Regions from separate parts of the Homo sapiens genome. Here regions 2 and 3 are each linked to region 1. Evidence: fine-mapped expression QTL. A gene starts in region 1. Each other region holds a variant in brackets. All regions are shown on one strand. Distances are between the middles of the regions. Region 1 holds the start of LPXN (leupaxin). Region 2 has its middle 34 kb from the start of CNTF. Region 3 has its middle 5.3 kb from the start of OR5B12.

Evidence for each region. PIP is the estimated chance that this variant, and not a neighbour inherited with it, causes the effect.
Region 2: its variant is fine-mapped to the expression of LPXN in whole blood (TOPMed, PIP above 0.99).
Region 3: its variant is fine-mapped to the expression of LPXN in blood mononuclear cells (TOPMed, PIP above 0.99).

Annotation. Positions count from the first base shown.
Region 1 is chr11:58,574,298-58,577,066 of GRCh38, forward strand. LPXN (leupaxin) reads right to left here and starts at 1,559. Exons shown (of 9, transcript NM_004811.3): 1 at 1,463-1,559. The coding sequence starts at 1,475. RefSeq lists enhancers at 1,432-1,491, 1,502-1,551.
Region 2 is chr11:58,655,166-58,657,934 of GRCh38, forward strand. No RefSeq gene overlaps it. Among named protein-coding and RNA genes, the nearest start is that of CNTF, 34 kb to the left of the region's middle. The variant T/C (reference allele first, on the strand shown) is at 1,701.
Region 3 is chr11:58,446,181-58,448,949 of GRCh38, forward strand. No RefSeq gene overlaps it. Among named protein-coding and RNA genes, the nearest start is that of OR5B12, 5.3 kb to the left of the region's middle. The variant C/A (reference allele first, on the strand shown) is at 1,196.

The DNA.
Region 1 (2,769 bases):
CCAGAACCAATAAACTTCTAAAATAGGAGAGCACCTTGTTGCTTAGTTTTGGTGTCAGGTGTTCCCGACAGTGACATTGAAAAAGTTATTTTGTTTTTCTTAGTTTTCTCATCTGAAAAAGAAGTGGATAACACCTATTTCAGAGGGTTGCTGCAGACACTAAAATGATTAACATATGTAAAAATGTCTAGTTTTTGCTTGATTTACTAAATAAGTATTAGTTTCCTTTTGAATTATTTGCCATGAAAGCCTTTCGGTGTCCCCTCCATCCCCCCCAAAAAAAAGAAAGAGAAAAAGAAAAAAGGCCCTAGCACTACTAGAACTCAAGCAGAAATTCACATTCTCCCAGCACTCACGTAGGATAAGAAATAGAATTCTACCCCAAGTCCAAAAAAGAGTCTGGCCCAATATCAAAATAGACTTTACCTCCAAAGCAGTTTGATATTTATTAAACACTACCTTTTTCTCTTCATTAACATCTCTTGCCTCCTGGTAATTTGCCCTTTACTTTTCCTCTGTTTCTCCAGCTTTGAAATCACACGCCATTTTTTTTAAGACAATGTAACAATGTGCAAGATATTTTTTGTTGTTGTTTTTTGCACTTTTGACATACCCTATCCCCAAACACACCCCAAACCAGGACACTGTGGAATTAATACAGTTTGGAAATTGGGTATAGTTTAGTGACTCAGTGTTAGTTAAGATGCTGGCAACAGATGTTGGCAAAGGCTATGGAATGAGTCCCAAGAATGACAAACCTTACATTACTCCAAAGGTTTGAAATCCAGGATTTCTCTGGTTAATATGGTTAATAGTTCCACTGCTGGTTTTAATTGTCTTAGAGTGGAAGGAGGTGTCATATTTTCAGGCCCTAGTAATCTCTTCCTTCAGAATTCTTCTGAATAAAAAGCTTAGCAACAAAATCACTAGAGTTAGAGTGCTATGCCTTCTTGATTTAATACTAAAACATGGAACAAATGAAACCACTCTGGCCTTTTTCCAACCTCTACAGATCCCTCATTCTTATACTTCTAGTCCGTCTTTTCTTCCTCATAACACCCCAATTCCCTTTTTGCTCTTTCTTTTCCTCCTCAAATCATATCTCTGCATTGTCTCGCTATGTGGCCACCCTTGATCTCCAGTGACCTCCAAAGGGCAAAACGCCCATAACAAGACAACAACTGCAGTAACAATCCAGTCCAAAAGTATTTGCCAAGAGTTTATTCCGCGGTTAGCACCAAACTCTCCATCTATTTTGCCACTGCAAACAGTGAACCCATAGTTCCCCAAAACAATCATAGTTCCTCATGCTTCACTCTTGGCAGGGCTGAGGACAGGAAAGAAGTGAAAATAAAATCTTCCATTACTACCCTCAGTCTAGCCAGAAGTATACCCCACCACACAAGGAGATGGCAGCCAAGTCTTCACTCCCTCAGAGTTTCTCCTCAGGCTCCTCACTCACCTAACTCTTCCATTGTCCTACATCCAAGATGCTCTTGTCTCACAGGCCGTGAGGAACAGCTTTGGCATGTGCTGAAGAAGAGGACCGCAAAGGAACTGGATGAGACAGCATAAGGCAGCCTCTATAAACCTTTTTGGTTCCTGTATTTGCTTAGCACTTCCTCTCTTTTGATTTGGTGAGCTTTTTTTTTTTTTTCATAGGTTACACAGTTTTAAAAATGTGACTGACATAGAAAGGTAGATAGTAAGATTTGCATTATGGCAGTGCATTGGCCAGGGTGATAAAGATTCAAAATTAATTTTGCAAAATTTGAGGACCTACTCTGTGCCAGGATTCATCTTGGATTCATGGGAATGGCAGACTTATACTTGCGTTTTTTCCAAGTGTAGGTACCCCACTCTGAGCATCTTTCTTTTTTCTTTTTTTTTTTTCTGTGAAGCTGGGAGACACAGAGGCATAGTCTCCTTCTTAAAATTTGCATCAGAGTTGACCAGCATCCATTTCATTTTGTTGTCTTATTTATTCAGAAATTATGGTTATCTGCTTTCCTGCATGGAACGTAAATCCTTAAAAGTAGGGCAGAAGTGGATTCATGCTTGGATTCTCAGGGCCTGGTTTACTCAGTGGTCCCAAAAGCAAACATCTATAGGGTGGTCACAAAGAAGGAAGCCAGGTTTGACACCAGATGTTAAACTGTGTGCATCTCAATTAAGCATAATCCCTGCCTAGATACACTGCCTTATAGCAATTTCTTTGGAAAGTAACACTGAGGTTAACTCTTCACCTTTTTTACCACTGTGATTTATTCACCTTGAATTAAACATTTACAAAAGGCCTACTATAAAAAAGCAATACGTAAGGAACTATAATTATGGCCCTGTGAAATAGATTTTTTCCCCCTTTTTACCAATGGTGAAATAGGTTCATGTAATAGCAACTTGCTAAGATAATTAATTGGTAGCTTTGCTACTTACTATAATTGCAAAGTCTGGGATCTTTCCTCTACAACACCGTAGCCTTCTTTACTTTTTTTAAGACAAGCTCTCTGTCACCCAGGCTGGCGTGCAAAGGTACTATCATAGTTCAGTGTAACCTCCAACTCGAACTCCTGAACTCAAGCGATTTGCCCTTCTCAGCTTCTGGAGTAGCTGGGACCAGAGGTGCATCCCATCACGCCACCAGGTTAGCTTAAAAGCTTTATTTTTATTTTTTATGTAGAGGGTGGTCTCCCTATGTTGCCCAGGCTGGTCTGGAAGTTCTGGGCTCAAGGGATCCTCCCACTTTGGCATCCAAAAGCGCTGGGATTC
Region 2 (2,769 bases), 81 kb after region 1:
AGTTTTGGCCATAGTGAACAATTCTACCTTTTATTTTCACCTGACAGAGCTTCAAGTTGTTGAGTAATATTCAACCAATTATTGCTATACAATAATTGTTATTATACTTCAAACAGCCCATTCTATGTCAAATACTGTGCTAGACATTTAAGATATTATACAGTTTAATCTTTAAAACCACCTGTTGATGCAGGTCCTATTCTCATTTTAGAGTTGATGAAACTGAGGCTGAGAGGCAATAAGTAACTTGCTAGTAAGTCATAGAGTTGGGGTCCCATCCAGACTGGTGCCACTTCAGCCCTCATGTTCTCTACTCTCATGCTTCACATTTACAATCTAAGATGATTAAAGAGCTGAGAAAGGGGTGTGGAGGGAAAAGATTGGTGAAAGGAAAACATACATCCTAAGATGTTTCGTATGTTGGAGAGAATGTGATGTTTTAAAAGAAATGATTGTATTGTTTATAGCTGAACTTGACTTTCTTTAGGTCTAGGATGAAGAAGCTACTGGATTTGGAAGTGGGTGGTACAGGAAGTGGTTCATTGCCATGTGGGACCTGCGCTCCTGGCCATTCTGCAGGTAGCACAATGGTTACAAGTGCAGCCCTGGAGTCAGACTGTGGGGTTTGAATCCTGGCTTTGCTACTCACTTATTAACCATAAGTCCTTGGGCAGCTTGTTTAATTTTATTTTGCTTCAATTCCCTAATCTTTAAAATGGGAACGTGATAGTACTTCCTGTTGTAAGCATTAAATGAGATAAAACATTTAAAATGATATCTGGCACATGGTAAGTGTACCATAAATGCCAGCAATTATTATTGTTTCTGCCCCAAGTTAGTGGCAAAGCAAGGTAGGTTTGGAAACTCTAATTCAGTGCTATTTATTTATTTATTTATTTAGAGACTGAGTCTCACTCTATTGCCCTGGCTGGATTGCAGTGGCACAATCTTGGCTCACTGCAACCTCCACTTCCTGGGTTCAAGTGATTCTCTTGCTTCAGCCTCCCTAGTAGCTAGGATTACCTCCCGCCACCATGTCTGGCTAATTTTTGTATTTTTAGTAGAGACAGGGTTTCACCATGTTGGACAGGCTGGTCTCGAACTCCTGACCTCAAGTGATCCCCCTGCCTTGGCCTCCCAAAGTGCTGGGATTACAGGTGTGAGCCACAGCACCTGGCCTTTTTTCTTCTCTATCTTTGGTAGGCAAATAGATACATTGCACAAAGTATTGTTTGTTTCAGCTGCCATATTCTGATATTTTGAAAAGCATTTAATTGTGGTTAAAAAACACAGAGAAGTTAGCATCTTAACCAGTTTTAAGGGTACCTTGCTATAGTGTTAAGCATGTTCACATTGTTGTGCAATCTCCAGAGCACTTTCCATTTTGCAAAACTGAAATTCCATACCTGTTAAGCAACAACACCGCATTCCCTCCCTCCAGCCCCCGGCAACAAATATTCTACTTTCTGTCCCTATGGATTTGACTACTCTAGGTAGCTCATATAAGTGGAATCACACAGTACTTGTCTTTTTGTGATTGACTTATTTCAGTTAGCATAGTGGCCTCAAGGTTCATCCATGCTGAAGCATAGGTCAGAATTTGCTTCCATTTCAAGGCTAAATCATTTTTGTATGTAGATACTACATTTTGTTTAGCCATTCATCCATCTATGGACACTTGGATTGCTTCCAGTTTTGGC[T/C]ACTGAGAATAATGCTGCCATGAATATGAGTGTATAAGTATCTTCTTGATACTCTGCTTTTTATTCTTGGGGGTTTATACCCAGAAGTGGAGTTGCTGGGCCATGTGGTAGTTCTATTTTTAATTTCTTGAGGAGCCTCTGTACTGTTTTCCTTAGTGGCTGCATCATTTCACATTCCCATTAACAGTGCACAAGGGTTTCCATTTCTCTACATTCTCACCAATACTTCTTTTCTGTTGTTTTGTTTTTCAATAGTAACCATCTTATTGGGTGTGAGATGGTATCTCATTGTAGTTTTGATCTGCATTTCCCTGATGATTAGTGATGTTAAGCATCTTTTCGTGTGCTTATTGGTCGTTTGAGAACAAAGAAGATATACAAATAACCAATAAGTACATAAAAAAATGGGTTCTTTGTCTATTTTTAAAGTCAGGTTGTTTTGTTTTTTGGTAGTAAGCGTTTAAATATTCTGAATATTAACCCATTATTAGATACGTGATTTGAAAATATTTTCTCCCATTTTGTGGGTTGTCTTTTCACTATCGATTGTGTCTGTTGATGCATAGAACTTAAAATTTTTGATATAGTCCAATTTGTTTTGTTTTGTTGTTGATGTTGCCTGTGCTTCAACTATCATTTCCAAGAAATCATCACCAAATTTAATGGCATGAACTGAGTCTAGTGTTTTTATCCTCAAATGTGGAGGTAGGTTCCATTGGGCATGAGAAACAACAACTTAAGCTTCAGAAACCCTTGACAGGTTGCAAAGTGCTTTTACCCACATTGGATTATTTAAACTTCAAAGCAACAATCAGTTCATGAATGATGAAACAGAGACCCAAGGAACCTAAGTGAGAGTTACTAAAAAATACCCAGGGGAAAAGCGTTGGGCAGAGTTATTGTTTAGGATTATTAATCAATGGTGGACCTGGGCCTGTAGTCCAATATTCAAAGTTGTTTCAATATCATACACGAGTTTTGGGAGCCTCTTAAATCTGCAAATTGAAATCAAGCTGAAAGTATCCAGAAATACAGGCCCCCCTTGCACACACACATTCATGGTAGCTTC
Region 3 (2,769 bases), 130 kb before region 1:
TTGACACCACAGGGATCCTTGGAAGGGTGGCCAGAAGAGCAGGGGGTAAAACTACACAGGGAGAAGGAAATCTTTAGCTGAGCTCTGTAACAATTTGAACAGGGCAAGAAGCCTCCTGGCCAGAACTTTGGGGAGGGCGCAAATCTGGTGTGCAGATTCCACAGGCAGGGGAACAACCAAACACCTTTCTTTCGAAGATGGGAGGCAGGTAGCCTGGGGCGAGTTTTCAAGCCCGTTTCCCCCACCACCTAAAAATAGACTCAGGGCTGCTGGGGTGGGGCATGGTGGGAGTGAGACTGGTCTTTCAGTTTGTGTGGGAGCTGGGTGAGGCCTGTGACTGCCGGCTTTCCCTGACTTCCCTAACAACTTGCATGACTCAGCAAAGGCTGCCATAATCCTCCTAGGTACACAATTCCAATAAGCTGAGATATCTCACCCCCATCCCCTACAGAAGCCACAGCAAGACCCGCCCAAGGAGAGTCTGAGCTCAGATACCCCTAGCCCTGCCCCACCTGATGGTTTTTCCCTACCCACTGTGGTAGCTGAAGGGCATATAATCTTGGGAGTTCTAGGGGCCCACCTACCACTAGTTCTTCTCCATACTACCACAACTGATGCTCTCTGGAAAGTGTCACCTCCTGGCAGAAGGCCAAAAAGCACAAAAATAGAGCATTAAACTACTAAAGCTAAGAATCCTCACAGAGTCCATTTCACCGCCCCGCCACCCCCACCCCAGCCCCCAGCTACTTGCACTGGAAGGTGCTGGTATCCTTGGCTGAGAGATCCATAGATGGTTCACATCACAGGACCCTGTGCAGACAACCCCCAGTAGCAGCCCAGAGCCAGGTAGACTAACTGGTTGGCTAGACCTAGAAGAAAGACAACAATCACAGCAGCTCAGCTCACAGGAAACCACATCCATAGGAAAAGAGGGAGAATACTATATCAAGGGAACAACCCATGGGACAAAAGAATCTGAACAACAGCCTTGAGCCCTAGACCTTCCCTCTGACAGAAACTACCCAAATGAGAAGGAACCAGGAAACCAGCCCTGATAATATGCTCCAAAAATCCAAACAAAATACTCCCAAAAAATCACACTAATTCACCAATAATAGATTCAAATGAAGAAGAAATCCTTGATTACCTGAAAAAAAATTCAGGAGGTTAGTTATTAAGGTAATCAAGGAGGCAC[C/A]AGAGAAAGGCGAAGCCCAATGCAAGGAAATCCAAAAAACGATACAAGAAGTGAAGGGAGAAATACACAAGGAAGTAGATAGCTTAAAGAAAAAACAATCAAATTTCAGGAAACATTGGATACATTTTTTAGAAATGTGAAATGCTCTGGAAAGTCTCAGCAATAGAATTGAACAAGTAGAAGAAAGATCCAGAGCTCAAAGACAAGGTCTTTGAATTAACCCAATCCAACAAAGACAAAAAAAAAAGAGTGAGAAAATATAAATAAAGCATCCAAGAAGTCTGAGATTATGTTAAACGACCAAACATAAGAATAATTGGTGTTCATTAGGAGGAAGAGAATTCTAAAAGCTTGGAAAACATATTTGGGGGAATAATTGAGGAAAAATTCCCTGGCCTTGCTAGAGACCTAGACATCCAAATACAAGAAACACAGAGAACACCTGGGAAATTCATCTCAAAAAGATCATCAGCTAGGTACATTGTCATCAGGTTATCCAAAGTTAAGATGAAGGAAAGAATCTGAAGAGCTGTGAGACAGAAACATCAGGTAACGTATAAAGGAAAACCCATCAGATTAACAGCAAATTTCTCAGCAGAAACCCTACAAGCTAGAAGGGATTGGGGCCCTGTCTTCAGCCTCCTCAAACACAATTATCAGCCAAGAATTTTGTATCCAGTGAAACTAAGCATCATATATGAAGGAAAGATACAGTCTTTTTCAAACAAATGATGAGAGAATTCACTATTACCAAACCACCACTAAAAGAACCGCCAAAAGGAGATCTAAATCTTGAAACAAATCCTGGAAACACATGAAAATAGCATAAATCACACAGAACCTATAAAACAAAAATACAAGTGAAAAAGCAAAAACAAAAAACAAAGCACACAGGCAACAAAGAGCACGATTAATGCAATGATACCTCACATTTCAATACTAACATTGAACAGAACCACAGAATGGATAAGAACTCCCTGATCAACTATCTGCTGCCTTCAGGAGACCAAGCTAACACATAAGGACTCACATAAACTTACATAACTCACATAAACTTAAAGTAAAGGGGTGGAAAAAGGCATTTCATGCAAATGGACACCAAAAGAATCAATATTGTGAAAATGACCATTCTGCCAAAAAAATCTACAAATTCAATGCAATCCCATAAAAATACCACCATCATTCTTCACAGAATTAGAAAAAAAAAATTCTAAAATTCATATGGATCCAAAACAGTGCCTGCATAACCAAAGCAAGACTAAGCAAAAAGAACAAATCTGGAGGCATACCTGATTTCAAACTATACTATAAGGCCATAGTCAAAAAACAGCATGGTACTGGTATAAAAACAGGCACATAGACCAATGGAACAGAATAGAGAACCCAGAAATAAACCCAAATACTTACAGCCAACTAATTTTCAACAAAGCAAACAAAAACATAAAGTGGGGAAAGGACACTCTTTTCAACAAGTGGTGTTGGGATAACTGGCTAGCCACATGTATGAGAATGAAACTGGATCCTCATCTCTCACCTTATACAAAATTCAACTCAAGATGGATTAAAGACTTAAG